4 linked regions of the Homo sapiens genome follow. The protein of the gene in region 2 purifies or fractionates together with the protein of the main gene of each other region. This does not show direct contact. Each region holds a gene or a part of one and is shown on either strand. Other genes may lie near its edges. The genes, in order: SIRT3, CA5A, PITRM1 and PMPCA.

The links.
Region 1: the proteins of CA5A (region 2) and SIRT3 purify together in Homo sapiens (affinity purification with mass spectrometry; one large-scale study listed by BioGRID and IntAct). This does not show direct contact.
Region 3: the proteins of CA5A (region 2) and PITRM1 purify together in Homo sapiens (affinity purification with mass spectrometry; one large-scale study listed by BioGRID and IntAct). This does not show direct contact.
Region 4: the proteins of CA5A (region 2) and PMPCA purify together in Homo sapiens (affinity purification with mass spectrometry; one large-scale study listed by BioGRID and IntAct). This does not show direct contact.

The regions. Positions count from the first base shown.
Region 1 is NC_000011.10:229,835-233,399, reverse strand, and holds part of SIRT3 (NAD-dependent protein deacetylase sirtuin-3, mitochondrial), read left to right. Parts: coding exon 1-57; intron 58-184; coding exon 185-417; intron 418-2,693; exon of another isoform or gene 2,694-2,847; coding exon 2,848-2,948; intron 2,949-3,565.
Region 2 is NC_000016.10:87,933,709-87,937,850, reverse strand, and holds the start of CA5A (carbonic anhydrase 5A, mitochondrial isoform 1 precursor), read left to right. Parts: upstream 1-1,321; 5' UTR 1,322-1,400; coding exon 1,401-1,542; intron 1,543-4,142. UniProt on the Homo sapiens protein: Mitochondrial carbonic anhydrase that catalyzes the reversible conversion of carbon dioxide to bicarbonate/HCO3.
Region 3 is NC_000010.11:3,162,775-3,166,339, reverse strand, and holds part of PITRM1 (presequence protease, mitochondrial isoform 2 precursor), read left to right. Parts: coding exon 1-111; intron 112-812; coding exon 813-927; intron 928-1,005; coding exon 1,006-1,102; intron 1,103-2,454; coding exon 2,455-2,615; intron 2,616-3,565. UniProt on the Homo sapiens protein: Metalloendopeptidase of the mitochondrial matrix that functions in peptide cleavage and degradation rather than in protein processing. Has an ATP-independent activity. Specifically cleaves peptides in the range of 5 to 65 residues.
Region 4 is NC_000009.12:136,417,130-136,420,694, forward strand, and holds part of PMPCA (mitochondrial-processing peptidase subunit alpha isoform 1 precursor), read left to right. Parts: coding exon 1-85; intron 86-887; coding exon 888-980; intron 981-1,425; coding exon 1,426-1,544; intron 1,545-1,698; coding exon 1,699-1,789; intron 1,790-1,914; coding exon 1,915-1,977; intron 1,978-3,565. UniProt on the Homo sapiens protein: Substrate recognition and binding subunit of the essential mitochondrial processing protease (MPP), which cleaves the mitochondrial sequence off newly imported precursors proteins.

The sequences.
Region 1 (3,565 bases), on a different chromosome or scaffold from region 2:
GGTGGTGGTCATGGTGGGGGCCGGCATCAGCACACCCAGTGGCATTCCAGACTTCAGGTACTGCCCACAGTCCCACCTGCCTTCTGCGCTCCCCTCCCCTGACTCCTGCCCTCCCCACTGCCCAGTTTATTCCACTTCCCTGTCCTCTTCCAAAGGCCTCAGAGCCTTTCTTCTCTCCCTGCAGATCGCCGGGGAGTGGCCTGTACAGCAACCTCCAGCAGTACGATCTCCCGTACCCCGAGGCCATTTTTGAACTCCCATTCTTCTTTCACAACCCCAAGCCCTTTTTCACTTTGGCCAAGGAGCTGTACCCTGGAAACTACAAGCCCAACGTCACTCACTACTTTCTCCGGCTGCTTCATGACAAGGGGCTGCTTCTGCGGCTCTACACGCAGAACATCGATGGGCTTGAGAGAGGTGAGCCCTCTGTGAGTCGCACACATTCTTTTTCTCCCACGGAGGCTCGGGTGCCTGTTTCTCCCAGGGAGGCTCGGGTGCCTGTTTCTCACAGGGGATGCTCGGGTGCCTGTTTCTGGGGACGGCCAAAACCTATCGCTTATGCTTCTTCCTTGGGACTTTTTTTGAGCCAACTAGTTAGGGCTTTGTTCCCAAGGAAAATGTCCTCTGGGTGTTTAAAGGCCACTGCTTGTTCTCCTGCATACCTGCAGAGCTGTGTATTTTGGGCAGAAGTTGACATTGTTTTGCCAATCTGGTGTGATGATCTCTTTTTTTCTTCTCTCTTTTAAGAAGTGTATTATGGAATTTTTTTGAGCACACACAAAGAGAGCAATGTAACGAACCGTCCTGTCCTCATCACCAGCACACAGCCAGTTCTTCCTGCGTCCTCACCACCTTCTTCCAAATCCCCAGATTATTTTGAAGCAAATCTCTCACATCATGAATTTAATCTAGAAATAATCTATAAACACATGAATGGATAGCTCTAGAGAATACTTTAAAAACAACTCCGGCCGGGTGCCGGATTACAGGTGTGGGATCACACCTGTAATCCCAGCATTTTGGGAGGCCGAGGCAGGTAGATCACCTGAGGTCGGGAGTTCGAGACCAGCCTGGCCAACGTGGCAAAACCCCGTCTCTACTAAAAATACAAAAAATTAGCCAGGCGTGGTGGTGTGTGCCTGTAATCCCAGGTACTCGGGAGGCTGAGACAGGAGAATCTCTTGAACCCAGCAGGCGGAGGTTGCAGTGAGCCGAGATCGTGCCACTTCACTCCAGCCTGGGCGACAGAGGGAGATTCTGTCTCAAAAAAATAAATAAAAATAAAAATAATTAAAAAATAAAAACAACTCTGATAGTGATTCACACTGAAGAATCACTAGTAATTCCTTAATATGGTCACACTTAGTCTGTGGTGATTTCTTGACCGTATCCATATGGTGCCCAAACCAGCGATTCACAGGTTGTGCCAACTTCTGGCCGTGCACCTAACGGAAGCACTTGGTGGGGCCTTTTCCTTACGTGCAGTGATGCAGACAGGTGCTGGGACAGTCAGCTCTCCGGGAGCCAGGCTCCCGGAGAGACTGCTGATGTGTTGTCAGTTAAAAAGAGGTGGCACCTTGGCTCCAGGAATGTGTTTCCTTGCCAGAAGGATCCCCTGACTTGGAACCACAGAGGCAGCAGCGGATGCCCCATGTTGGTGGGCTCTTCTCCCAGAGGTGCAGCAGGGCAGGCCTTGTGGGAAGGTGGGAGCTCCTGGCTGTGAGATTCAGCACTGCTGAGTTAGGGCAGCGACAGGGACTTGGGAAGCCTCCTGCAGCTGGGACCCTGGCTGTGCCACCGCAGCCTTTCAGAACCAGTTAATACTAACACAACTTTCATAAGAAGTCACTTTTTGTCTGTTTCTACCAAGCAATTCTTTTGGAATTTATGATATTTATATCCTCATTTTAACTTGGTATCTGTAGAATAGAAGATATGTTCCTGGATATTAGATATAAATTTTTGAGACAGGGTCTTGGCTCTGTTGCCCAGGCTAGAGTGCAGTGGCATGATCATAGCTCACTATAGCCTGAACTCTTGGGCCGAAGTGATCCTTTTGCCTCAGCCTCTGGAATAGCTGGGACTACGGGCATGCACTACCATGCCTGGCTAATTAAAAAAATTTTTTAAGACAAGTCTCACTATGTTGCTGAGGCTGGTCTCAAACTCCTGGCCTCAAGTGATCCTCCTGCCTTGGCCTTCCAAAGCACTGGGATTACAGGCATGAGCCACTGCACCCAGCCTGGTATTAGGTGTAATTTTTTTTTTTTTTTTTGAGACAGAATCTCGCTCTCTTACCCAAACTGGAGTGCGGTGGCACGACCTCAGCTCACTGCAACTTCCACCTCCCGGGTTCAAGCGATTCTCCTGTCTCAGCCTCCCCGAGTAGCTGGCACTACAGGTGCCTGCCACCACATCTGGCTAATTTTTGTATTTTTAGTAGAGGTACGGTTTCACCATGATGGCCAGGCCGGTCTTGAACTCCTAGCCTCAAATGATCTGCCCACCTCGGCCTCCCAAAGTGCTGGGATTACAGGTGTGGGCCACTGTGCCCGGCTGGATATAATTTTATTTGAGCTTTTATCAAATGGTTTTTCGTACTGAGTTTTGACAGGCTTTGTTTTAACCGTGATTTGGCTCCAGCTAGGTGCCCCTTTGCTCCCCTGCCTTATTCTGGTTGATGGCGCATGTAGGTGATACGGGCATGAAAACCAGGCTTGAGGACATCACAACCCCAAGGGGCTGTGCCTCCTTCCAGGAGTCCTGCCAAGCCCAGAAGTTGTGCTCTTGGCCTTGCGTGCTCATCTCGGAGGCGGCAGCAACACTTCGCTTTGGCTTGAATTTCAGTGTCGGGCATCCCTGCCTCAAAGCTGGTTGAAGCTCATGGAACCTTTGCCTCTGCCACCTGCACAGTCTGCCAAAGACCCTTCCCAGGGGAGGACATTCGGGTGAGTTATCCTGCTGTTGGTTGTCCTTCTGCAGTTTGCTGTTGGGGTGATCTGGAAAAGTGGTATTTTATAAGCATTGTCTCGAAAGGACAGTTGAACAATAATAGTGTGAAACATTTTATTTGTAAATTAGAAAATCAATACATGCTTGTAAAAAAATTTAAGACAATATAGAAATATGTAGGGAAAATGAATCTCCCTTCAGCCAATTCCAGCTGCCCACTTTTTTTTTTTTTTTTTGAGATTGAGTCTCACTCTGTCGCCCAGGCTGGAGTGCAGTGGGCGATCTCGGCTCACTGCAACCTCCGTCTCCCGGATTCAAGGAATTCTTCTGCCTCAGCCTCCTAAGTAGCTGGGATTACAGGCGTGAGCCACCACGCCCGGCAATCAGATGGCCTTTTGTGCCGAGCTTATTTCCTGAAAATGTTTCTCGCTCCTTCGCCTTGTAGCTTGTGTTAGTATTTCATCCTGTTTCATGGCTAAATGTTCCACTGATGTATGCACCACAGTTGGTTTGTTTGTACATGGATGGGTGTTTGGGTTGTCCCACCTTTCTGCTCTTGTGTATAGTTCTGCTGTGGAGCATATGCAAGTATTCGTTTGAGAGTCCTTGTTTT
Region 2 (4,142 bases):
CTCCACCTTGGGTGACAGAGCAAGACCTCACCTCAAAAAAAAAAAAAAAAAGAAAGAAAGAAAGAAAGAAAGAAAGAAAGAAAAGAAAAGAGGCTGGACGCAGTGGCTCATGCCTGTAATCCTAGCACTTTAGGAGGCCGAGGTGGGTGGATTGCCTGAGCTCAGGAGTTCGAGACCAGCTTGGGGAACACAGTGAAACCCCGTCTCTACTAAAAATACAAAAAATTGGCCGTTGTGGTGGTGTGTGCCTATAATCCCAGCTACTCAGGAGGCTGAGACAGGAGAATTGCTTAAACCTGGGAGGCAAAGGTTGCAGTGAGGCAGGATCACGCCATTGCACTCCAGCCTGGGCAACAGAGCGAGACTCCATCTCAAAAAAAGAAAGAAAGAAAAGAAAAGAAACGAAGAAAAGAGGCTGGGCGTAGTGGCTCACACTTGTAATCCCAGCACTTTGGGAGGCCGAGGCAGGCAGATCACCTGAGGTCAGGAGTTCAACACCAGCCTGGCCAACGTGGTGAAACCCCATCTCTACTAAAAATACAAAAAATTAGCTGGGCATGGTGGTGGGCGCCTGTAATCCCAGCTACTCAGGAGGCTGAGGCAGGAGAATTGCTTGAACCTGGGAGGCAGAGGTAGCAGTGAGCCGAGATCACGCCATTGCACTCTAGCCTGGGCAACAGAAGTGAAACTCTGTCTAAAAAAAAAAAGAAAAGGAAAGAAAGAAAGGTGGCCCTGTTAATGTTTATGCCAAGACAGCAGGCATGACCTGGAAGTGTCCGAAGCCACAGGGCATCTTGCTTCCGGGGAGGATGAATGAATCAAATCGCACCTATTTTAAGGCAAGCAAGGACTCCATGACTTCAGGAGCCCTGGTGGGTGGACAGAAGCTCCCTGCTCCCCTGGCCTGTCTACCCAGCAGCGCTTTGGCCAGTCCCATTCCTGTACTTCTGAGCCTGCCTGCCAGTCCCTCCTCACATGCACACCATGGCTTTGTGCCTGGTATTGAGTGTCCCGGAGCCCCAAACCACACGGTCAACCCCATGAAAGAAACAGGGACTCTGCTCTCATCCACTCGCCCCCGCCTCCCGCGTAATCCCCTGGTGCTCACGCAGCCCCACCGTACAGTTTTTCTAGCTCCCTGGCAGACTTGTGCTCCTGTTTGCCAGATCAAAGCCCAGTGACCTGAGTGGCCTGTCCCCAGCAGAGGCCACTAATCCCTGTGGACCCACCCTGTTGGGAAAGGCATGGGTTGAACTTTAACCATTAGGCTCAGGGGTTGGGATGAGTTTCTACAAAAAGAGGTGGGTACACGCCAGTCCACAGTGGTCCTGATCAAAGTGAGAACAGACAGCAGGGAACATCACCCTCTTCAGACTGGAGTCAGTGGGAACAGACCCAAGATGTTGGGGAGGAACACTTGGAAGACCTCAGCTTTCTCCTTCTTGGTTGAGCAGATGTGGGCCCCTCTCTGGAGTCGTTCGATGAGGCCAGGGCGATGGTGTTCTCAGCGTTCCTGTGCATGGCAAACCAGCAATAACACTTGTAAGTAGAGCCTCAAATTTCCTAAGATGCGACTGGATCCTTGTCTTAGCTGATGGGGTCTTTCGAGAGGAGAGAGGAGAGACCGTCCCGAGCCAGATGGGTTCAGATTTCCACTCCGTTTTTTTTTTTTTTTTTTTAAGATGGCGTCTCGCTCTGTGGCCCAGGCTGGAGTACAGTGGCGTGATCTCAGCTCACCACAACCTCCACTTCCCGGGTTCAAGCGATTCTCCTGCCTCAGCTTCCTGAGTAGCTGGGACTATAGGTGCATGCCACCACTCCTGGCTAATTTTTCGTATTTTTAGTAGAGACAGGGTTTCACTGTGTTAGCCAGGTTGGTCTCGAACTCCTAACCTCGCGATCCGCCTGTCTCAGCCTCCCAAAGTGCTGGGATTGCAGGCATCAGCCACGGCGCCCGGCCCTCTTTTTTCTTTTTTTGATGAAGTTTTGCTCTTTTGCCCAGGCTAGAGTGCAATGGCATGATCTCGGCTCACTGCAACCTCTGCCCTCCAGGTTCAAGTGATTCTCCTGCCTCAGCCTCCAAAGTAACTGGGACTACAGGCACCCGCCACTGCACCCAGCTAATTTTTTGTATTTTGGTAGAGATGGGGTTTCACCATGTTGGCCAGGCTGGTCTCGAACTCCTGACCTCAGGTGATCCACCCACCTTGGCCTCCCAAAGTGCTAGGATTACAGGCGTGAGCCACCGCGCCTGGCCACACTCCGTTTCTCTTGTATTTGGTGACCTTGGGTGAATCATTTAGCCTCCGTTTCAGGGGTCCTGGGGAGGGCAAGATGCTGGGAGCAGGCGGGTAGTCCGTGTTCGCACGGGACACACTGGCACGACTCACCATCCAGACCCGGCGGAATGGGCTGCACTAACCAGTCACGATCGCTCCTAAACTCTTCGGCAGAGAACGCTTTCAAGCAAACCTGTAACAAATAAACCACTCAGCCAGCTCTGCCAAGAAACTGCCCCGTGCCAGCCCCTCCTGGCTTCATGGTCAGTGCCTTGTGACCTTGAACGAGGCCCTTCCTCTTTCTGGGTCTCAGGTGCTTCCTCCGTAGAATGAGAGCCTGCTTTGGCAGCTGCCAAGTTCTCTTCTAACTGAAATCTTCCATGCATTCCATGTTTGGGCCATTGAAAGAGCATGGGCTTAGGAGCCAGACCCCAGGCATGCAGTCCGACTGACGCTTGCTGAGGTGGAGCCTCGGCAGGTCTTCACCCCCAAGCCTCTGTGTCCTTATCTCGAGATGGGGGTGGCCAGACTTTCTCTCCAGGGCCATGGAAGGATGACACGATGCGTGTAGAAAGCCTGGCCCACCCCAGACTCTGAGTGAGCTACACTCATTCCTCCTGTTGGGGTCCACACCTGTGGACTGGAGTGCAGTGGTGCGATCTCGGCTCACTGCAGCCTCTGCCTCCTGGGTTCAAGCGATCCTCTTGACTCAGCCTCCCAAGTAGCTGGGACTACAGGCGTGTGCCACCACGCCCAACTAATTTCTGTATTTTTAGTAGAGATAGGATTTCGCCATGTTGGCCAGGCTGGTCTCAAACTCCCGACCTCAGGTGGTCTACCTGCCTCGGCCTCCTAAAGTGCTGGGATTACAGGCGTGAGCCACTGCACCCACCCCCCTTTTTTATTCTTAGTACGACCGTCAAGAGCGCTAGCCTGCCTAGATTGGAATCTTGGCCCCACTGCTCTATGGCTGTTGCCCCTCTGTGACTTTCCTTTATTTTTTGAGACTAATTTCTGTCTTGTTGCCCAGGCTGGAGCGCAGTGGTGCGATCTCCAGCTCACCGCAACCCCCACCTCCCAGGTTCAAGCAATTCTCCTGCCTCAGCCTCCCGAGTAGCTGGAATTACAGGCATGCGCCACCACATCCGGCTAATTTTGTATTTTTAGTAGATACAGGGATTCTCCATGTTGCTCAGGGTGGTCTTGAACTCCCAGCCTCAGGTGATCTGCCCGCCTCAGCCTCCCAAAGTGCTGGGATTGCAGGCGTGAGCCACCACGCCCAGCTGTCCCCTCTGTGACTTTCTTAACTTCCCCCAGCCTTGGTTTTGTCGTCTGTAACAGGGGGTTGATAATGGTGCTTACGGCACAGTGTCGTTGGGAGAAGGGTCCGAGGTGGGGCCTGCAAAGGCTGGGGACAGCACATGGCTCCAGGAAGCCCTTGCTAGACGCCAGCTGCTGCTGTTGCTAACACAGGCAGCGGTGGGTGCCCTGTGTCTATTTAAGCATTTCCCTGTCAGTGGGCAGCAGGTAGCATTCCATTTCTTACTGTGGCAACATGTCCTCTTACATCGTGTGCTAGAGAGAGTCATATTCTGTATCGGCACCTAAATCCATTTACACCATGGTCCTCAACCTGTTCCCAGTGAACAGAGGGCTCTGCCAAATCATTTCAGAGTTCCACAAAGAGCAGAATATTCTGCCAAGCAGAGAAGATTGGAACATCATAAGGAATTCATCCTTCTATGTCGGTGTTTTATTTATGGGCATTCTGAAGATTATTTCACTTGGAAAAAGAATATTGTTACTAAAAATTATTGAAAAATCACTGGTGGTTTGGCCTTGAGAGAAAAGTCAAAGAGTTAC
Region 3 (3,565 bases), on a different chromosome or scaffold from region 2:
CTCACATTCTTGAGCATACCGTCCTTTGTGGGTCTCAGAAATATCCGTGCAGAGACCCTTTCTTCAAAATGTTGAACCGGTCCCTCTCCACGTTCATGAACGCCTTCACAGGTAAGACCAGCATCCTGAACAGAAACTGCTTTTGGGTTTGCCAGGCACACCCACTGGAATTCAGTTAGTTTCTGAGAAGGAATGAGGGGAGTGGGCAATTCATGTTCTAGAAAAATTTTTACCTCTCTCTAGTTGAAGGACATTAGAAATTTAATCCTTCAGGAAAGCCACATGGTAGCGAGATTGTAAAAACTAGCGTTTTAAGAAAACATATGTGAACTTTTCCCAGAAAAGTTCAAAACAATTTTCTCTTGGAGATATCGCTACAATGCCAGAGTTACTACTAATGTTGATGTTTGACTTTTAGTAAGACTGACGATAGTGGATAGGGTGACGATGAACAGTGCATTCTGTGGGGGAGTGACATTGAAGAGCGGGTTAAATCCATGCTGTTACAGAATGAGGTCATCTTTGTAGATGTATGAAAGTCTCTGGAGAAACTTGAGAGAGTTTAGATATTCGCTGAAGAAAGCCCTGGTGCCCGTCGAGTGCAGATCCTGAGACGGGATGGGAAAGCCGGCACTTGGGGTTATGAGCTGGGACAGCTGCTGAGGCCAGGGACCAGAGCATGGGGCCACTGCCCCATCCCAAGAATAGCTACAGCTTACTGTCCTAGGACAAAGGGGGAATGAGTCTTGAGAGTCAATAATTTTAGTAGAAATCTGTTATATTTTACAATTTCACTTTTCATTTGTACCCAGCTAGTGATTATACTCTGTATCCATTTTCCACACAAAATCCCAAGGACTTTCAGAATCTCCTCTCGGTGTATTTGGATGCCACCTTTTTCCCATGTTTACGCGAGCTGGATTTCTGGTATGTCATGAATGATTAACTAGTTGATACAGACTTTAGTATTTGAGTCACTATCAGCTTATAATGATTTGTCCTCAGGCAGGAAGGATGGCGGCTGGAACATGAGAATCCGAGCGACCCCCAGACGCCCTTGGTCTTTAAAGGAGTCGTCTTTAATGAGATGAAGGGAGCGTTTGTAAGTTTTCTTCCTTTTTTATGTTGTGTTCAGCTTACCTTTCCCATGTACAATATCATGATATAGACACATCTGGAAGATTTTATTTAATATTCTCATTATAGGTGATACATTCTTGAATTAGCTGGGGTCAGTGCTGTGAGCAGAAGTCGGGGTAGCAGGGCCAGGCTGCTGTTCTTCCCAGCAGGTCTCAGACCATGTCTGGGGACCCCTGGTATGTGATCTGCAGCAAGTCTGTGAGATAAAAGCTATTTTCATACCACTACCAAGACAGTGTCTTTTCATTCATTCTTGCCCAAGTACACGGTGTACTTTCTAGAGGCTGCATGGCAAGGTGTGTGACACACAGCGAGCTGCATACAGAGCAAATGGGGGAGTCCAGCTTCACCTCTGAGCCAGACGCTACAGAGATTTGCAAAAAAGGCAACACAGCACCACTCTAATCAGTTTTTTACTTTGTTATGAGAAGTATTTTTCAAAAATATTTATATCAACATGTAATGATGGCTTACCTTAATGAATAAGTATTTTTTAAATGTCTCAGCTTTAATTTAGAATATAGAAAAATTATATAAACACACACAGGCACCTACACAGGCAAAAACGCCCACATAATCAAAAGCTGTTTGGGTCCTCATTAAAACGCATTTATGCCTAGTGTTCCATTATTGGCACCCTAAGCTTGTGGGAGTTATTTATGTCCTACAGCTCAAGGTCATCGCCAAGGTCTGATTTTTTACAAAAAAATTGCAACCTCAGGCATAAATGGGTTAATTTTTCAGAGTGTAAAGGATTCTTGAGACCATTTTGGATTAAGAGCTGCTGTCCTGGGCCCATGTCTTCATGTCCCTTTGTGACTTGGACAACCTGTCTGTCCTGGTGTCCCTGAGGCTCATGGGTGGCCTGCTCTCTGATTCCCGTAGCTCCTCTCGGCTGGTGAACTATTTCTTACCTTTTCATTCTCAATTTGGTGGTCTTTTCTTCCAAGGAGTCTTCTTGAACTCAAGTTGGGGTGACAGCTTCTCCCCACTTCCCTCACGGCTGGTGGGCAGACCGACTGATCCATCCCGATTTACAGCCCTCAGCTATGCGTTTGTTGCACCACACATCAAAAAATCCATTGTTCTTCTCAATCCTTGGGTCCTGTGCGTGGGTGATGAATGATTGAATACCGTGTTAAACAATGCCTGCGTGGGTGTTTTTTTTTTTTTTTTAAACCATTAGAACAGCTTTATTTGCAAAGTATTACAGGTGTATGCACCAGAATGTGATCAATTGGCTATATTGTAAGTAATGTAACGTGTGTATTATTTTACATGTATACTTATGATTTATTTATTTTACGTTTCAAGACAGACAATGAGAGGATATTCTCCCAGCACCTTCAGAACAGACTTCTTCCTGACCACACGTACTCAGTGGTCTCCGGGGGTGACCCACTGTGCATCCCGGAGCTTACATGGGAGCAGCTTAAGCAGTTTCATGCCACTCACTATCACCCAAGCAATGCTAGGTAATATTTTGTTGGAAAAGTTTGATGGTGGATTGTGAAAAGTTGACTTGTTTGTGTTCTTAACAGTTTATGGCATGGCTTCTCTCACATTTAGCAATGCTTAAGAAATATCTAAGTCTAGGTAAGATTCTTGGCCTAAGTTTGCCTATCTTACTTGGACATTGATTTTGGACATTTACAATGATAGCCCTCAGGAGGCTCAGCATGGTGGTTACAAACACAGCGTTTAGAGTCCCCCAGAGGAGGGTCCTGGCCCCGCAGCCTGTTGCCTCACATCTAGCTTGGTTGCGTGGAAAGTGGGGGTGCATGGATGGTGCCCACCTTGACACGGGGTGTGAAGCTTGAAGCCCTCTCCTTGGCACGGAGAAGTGCTCTTCCAATAGTGGATGCAGTTACTGAACCTTAATTACATCCTCACTTTCTGATACATTGCTTGTTCTTATGTCACTAATACAAGGTCATTATAATAATAATATAGTCATATATCTTATATAAAACACTAATTGTATTTACATATGAATGCTAATGTAAAAACATATTTGCAAGATTATTTTATGTAAAAATAATTATGAAAACTTGAAGCATACAGAAAAGTAGAGATACTAGAATAATGAGCCCCTAAACACTTATCATGTAATAGATATCCTTTCCCTTGCTGAAGTTTTTGGAAGTAAATTATAGACGTCATGATCATTTGCCCGTAAATGTTTGAATTTGTGACCCTAAAACGTGAGGATTTTTTCTTACATGAGCTAATGCCATTTTCAGTTTTAATAGAATAAAACATACTTTCTTAAAACTGCCTATTTCTTATTCCATATTCAGATTTTCTAGTTGGCCCCAAAGTGTTTGTTGCACGGGGTCCCACAGGTCACACCTGGTCGGCCCGGGTTTCTCCTGGGCACCCTCTAGGGGACGGCAGAGGAGTGTGCAGGCCCAGTTTCTTTCTG
Region 4 (3,565 bases), on a different chromosome or scaffold from region 2:
CCTGGGGGTCCAGCCGGCCTGGGGGAGCGCAGAGGCCGTGGATATTGACAGATCTGTGGCCCAGTACACTGGGGGGATTGCCAAGGTGAAGTAGCGGGAACGTCTCATGGCCTCGGGTGGGGAACACGTCCCCTGGCCCGTGGTGTGACCTGTTTTTGTATTGATTCTGAGGGTGATAGGTGTTGACTGCATGTGTAGCTTTGCCTTAACACATGCTGTAGTCCCACAGCAGGGCATGGACTGTGTCCCCTGCTGAGAATGAGTGCTGCTAGGCCTGAGAGCAACACAAAAGGTGGATGCGGTTCTTTCTCTAGGGGAGTGGGTCTGCCACTGCGTGTTGCATTTTTTTTTTTTTTTTTTAGAGATGGAGCCTCGCTCTGTCACCCAGGCTGGAGTGCAGTGGTGCAATCTCGGCTTACTGCAACCTCCACCTCCCAGGTTCAAGTGATTCTTCTGCCTCAACTTCCCGAGTAGCTGGGATTACCACCACGCCCGGCTAAATTTTGTATAGAGATGGGGTTTCACTATGTTGGCCAGGCTGGTCTCGAACTCCTGACCTCATGATCTACCTGCCTCAGCCTCCCAAAATGCTGGGATTACAGGCGTAAGCCACCACGCCCAGCTTATATGTATATACATATGTTTTTTTTTTTTTGTCTTTTTGGTAGAGGTGGAGTTTTGCCACATTGCCTAGGCTGGTCTTGAACTCCTGGACTCAAGTGATCTGCCCACCTTGGCCTCCCAAAGTGCTGGGATTTTAGGCATGAGCCACTGTGCCTGGCTGGCATTGGATTTCTGTGTAACCACTCTGAAGATGATCTCATCTGGGGTTTGCGAGCCCTCATTGTTTTTCACATGGCGACACTTGCTTGTTTTCTTGGTTACAGCTAGAAAGAGACATGTCCAATGTCAGCCTGGGCCCGACCCCCATCCCCGAGCTCACGCACATCATGGTTGGACTGGAGAGCTGCTCCTTCCTGGTGAGTCCTGGTGCTGGGTCTGATGGCGTTCCTGATGCAGTGTGGCCGGCTCAGCCAGCCCTGCCCTCTGTCCCTGGCATCCGACAGCGCTCCTGATGGGGCGTGGGCGGCTCAGCCAGCTCTGCCCTCTGTCCCTGGCATCCAGCAATGCTCCTGATGCAGTGTGGGCGACTCAGCCAGCTCTGCCCTCTGTCCCTGGCGTCTGACGGCGCTCGTGACACAGCGTGGGTGGCTCAGCTAGCTCTGCCCTTTGTCCCTGGCATCCGACGGCGCTCCTGACGCGGCATGGGTGGCTCAGCCAGCTCTGCCCTCCGTCCCTGGCGTCCAGCGGCGCTCCTGACGTGGCTTGGGCGACTCAGCCAGCTCTGCCCTCCGTCCCTGGCGTCTGACGGTGCTCCTGACGTGGCGTGGGTGGTTCAGCCAGCTCTGCCCTCCGTCCCTGCAGGAGGAGGACTTCATCCCCTTTGCAGTGTTGAACATGATGATGGGCGGAGGTGGCTCCTTCTCGGCTGGTGGGCCCGGCAAGGGCATGTTCTCCAGGCTCTACCTCAACGTGCTCAACAGGTGGGTTGCACTCTTTTCTGTATCCTCAGGCCACCAGGCCAGGCCAGGTGTGTTTTTGGACCATGAGGCCACCTTCCAGGTGACTTTTCTCCAGTTTCCCATGGCCTGATCCTGGCGAGTCCCCTTCACTCCCATGACTCTCGCTTCCTCCCAGGCACCACTGGATGTATAACGCGACCTCCTACCACCACAGCTACGAGGACACTGGCCTCCTTTGCATCCATGCCAGCGCCGACCCAAGACAGGTGAGGGCCCCGCCTGCCACCGTCCTCAGTGCGGTTGCCTGTCCAGACCTGGGCGTCCCTGCCTAGACGGGTCAGTAGGCCGGCAGGCGCAGGCCACACTGTTATCGTCTTGCCCTTCTTCGCAGGTTCGAGAAATGGTAGAAATCATCACAAAGGAGTTTATTTTAATGGGCGGAACCGTGGACACGGTAAGTGCAGTGTGGCGCCATTTCCAGGCGTACCTGTGGTGTCTGACAGGAGACAGCCACGTTGTAGGAGTGGCCACCTGTGGGCCTGGTCCCTGAGCCTCAGGGCCAAGGTCCCGGCAGGGCAGGGCAGGGCAGGGCGGCCAAGGAGGCACAGCCTGGGGCTGAGCTGCTCCACCTGGGAGCCCGCTGAGGCTGTTCTTCCCTGGTCCAAACCCCGAAAACAGAAAAACAGACCACCGCCCTCCCCCAGTGCTCGGTCCACTACTTCTTTCTCTGAGCCACTGGGTGAGTCGTGGGACTGACCATGTGACTCTCTCAGCTTTGCTGGCGAAACGCTGCAGGAGTTTTTGTGTCCTTCTCAGCCGCCTCTGTGAGGTGACTGGGGTGAAGCAGCTCGCACAGGTGGGCTGCAGCGTGGGGTGTCTCGAGCCTTTCCCTGGCTCCATTCTATGTTTGAAACTGTATTTGTTTACCAATTTTTTTTTGTTCTTTTTAAGATGGAGTCTCACTGTCTCACCCAGGCTGGAGTGCAGTAGCTCAAATTCGGCTCACTGCAACCTCCACCTCCCGGGTTCAAGCGATTCTCCTGCTTCAGCCTCCCAAGTAGCTGGGATTACAGGCATGCGCCACCATGCCTGGCTAATTTTTGTATTTTTAGTAGAGACGGGGTTTCGCCATGTTGGCCAGGGTGGTCTTAAACTCCTGACCTCAAGTGATCCGTTGCCTTGGCCTCCCAAGGTGCTGGGATTACAATTACAGGTGTGAGCCACCATGCGTCCCTGTTTACTAATTTTTTAAGCTTAGTTTTTGATGCTTTACACATTTGGGAACCTCGTTACTTCCTGGACCAGAAGTGGTACAAATAAGCAAGTTTTATACACACACTTTTTTTTTTTTTTAGACAGAGTCTTGCTCAGGCTGGAGTGCAGTGGCATGATCTCAGCTCACTGCATCCTTCCACCTCCCGGGTTCAGGTGATTCTCCTACCTTAGCCTCCTGAGTAGCTGGGATTACAGGCATGTGTCACCACCCTAGCTAATTTTTTTGTTTTTTGTTTTCTGTTTTTTTTTTTTTTTTTTGAGACGGAGTCCTGCTCTGTTGCCCAGGCTGGAGTGCGGTGGCATGATCTCAACTCATTGCAACCTCCGCCTCCCGGGTTCAGGTGATTCTCCTACCTCAGCCTCCTGAGTAGCTGGGATTACAGGCACCCACCACCACACCTGGCTAATTTTTTGTATTTTTAGTAGAGATGGGGTTTCACCATGTTGGCCAGGCTGGTCTTGAACTCCTGACCTCAAGTCATCTGCCCATCTCGGCCTCCCAAAGTGCTGGGATTACAGGTGTGAGCCATTGCACGCAGCCCCATGGCTAATTTTTGTATTTTTAGTAGAGACAGGGTTTCACCACGTTGGCCAGACCGGTCTTGAACTGCTGACCTCAGGTGATCCACCTGCCTTGGCCTCCCAAAGTGCTGGGATTACTTTGGGATCCCGGTGTGAGCCACCGTGCCCGGCCAGGAAAAAAAGCATTCAAGAAATAAAGTTGTGGTTAAATTAATACGCTTCAGTTCCACTAGTGCACTGCTAGA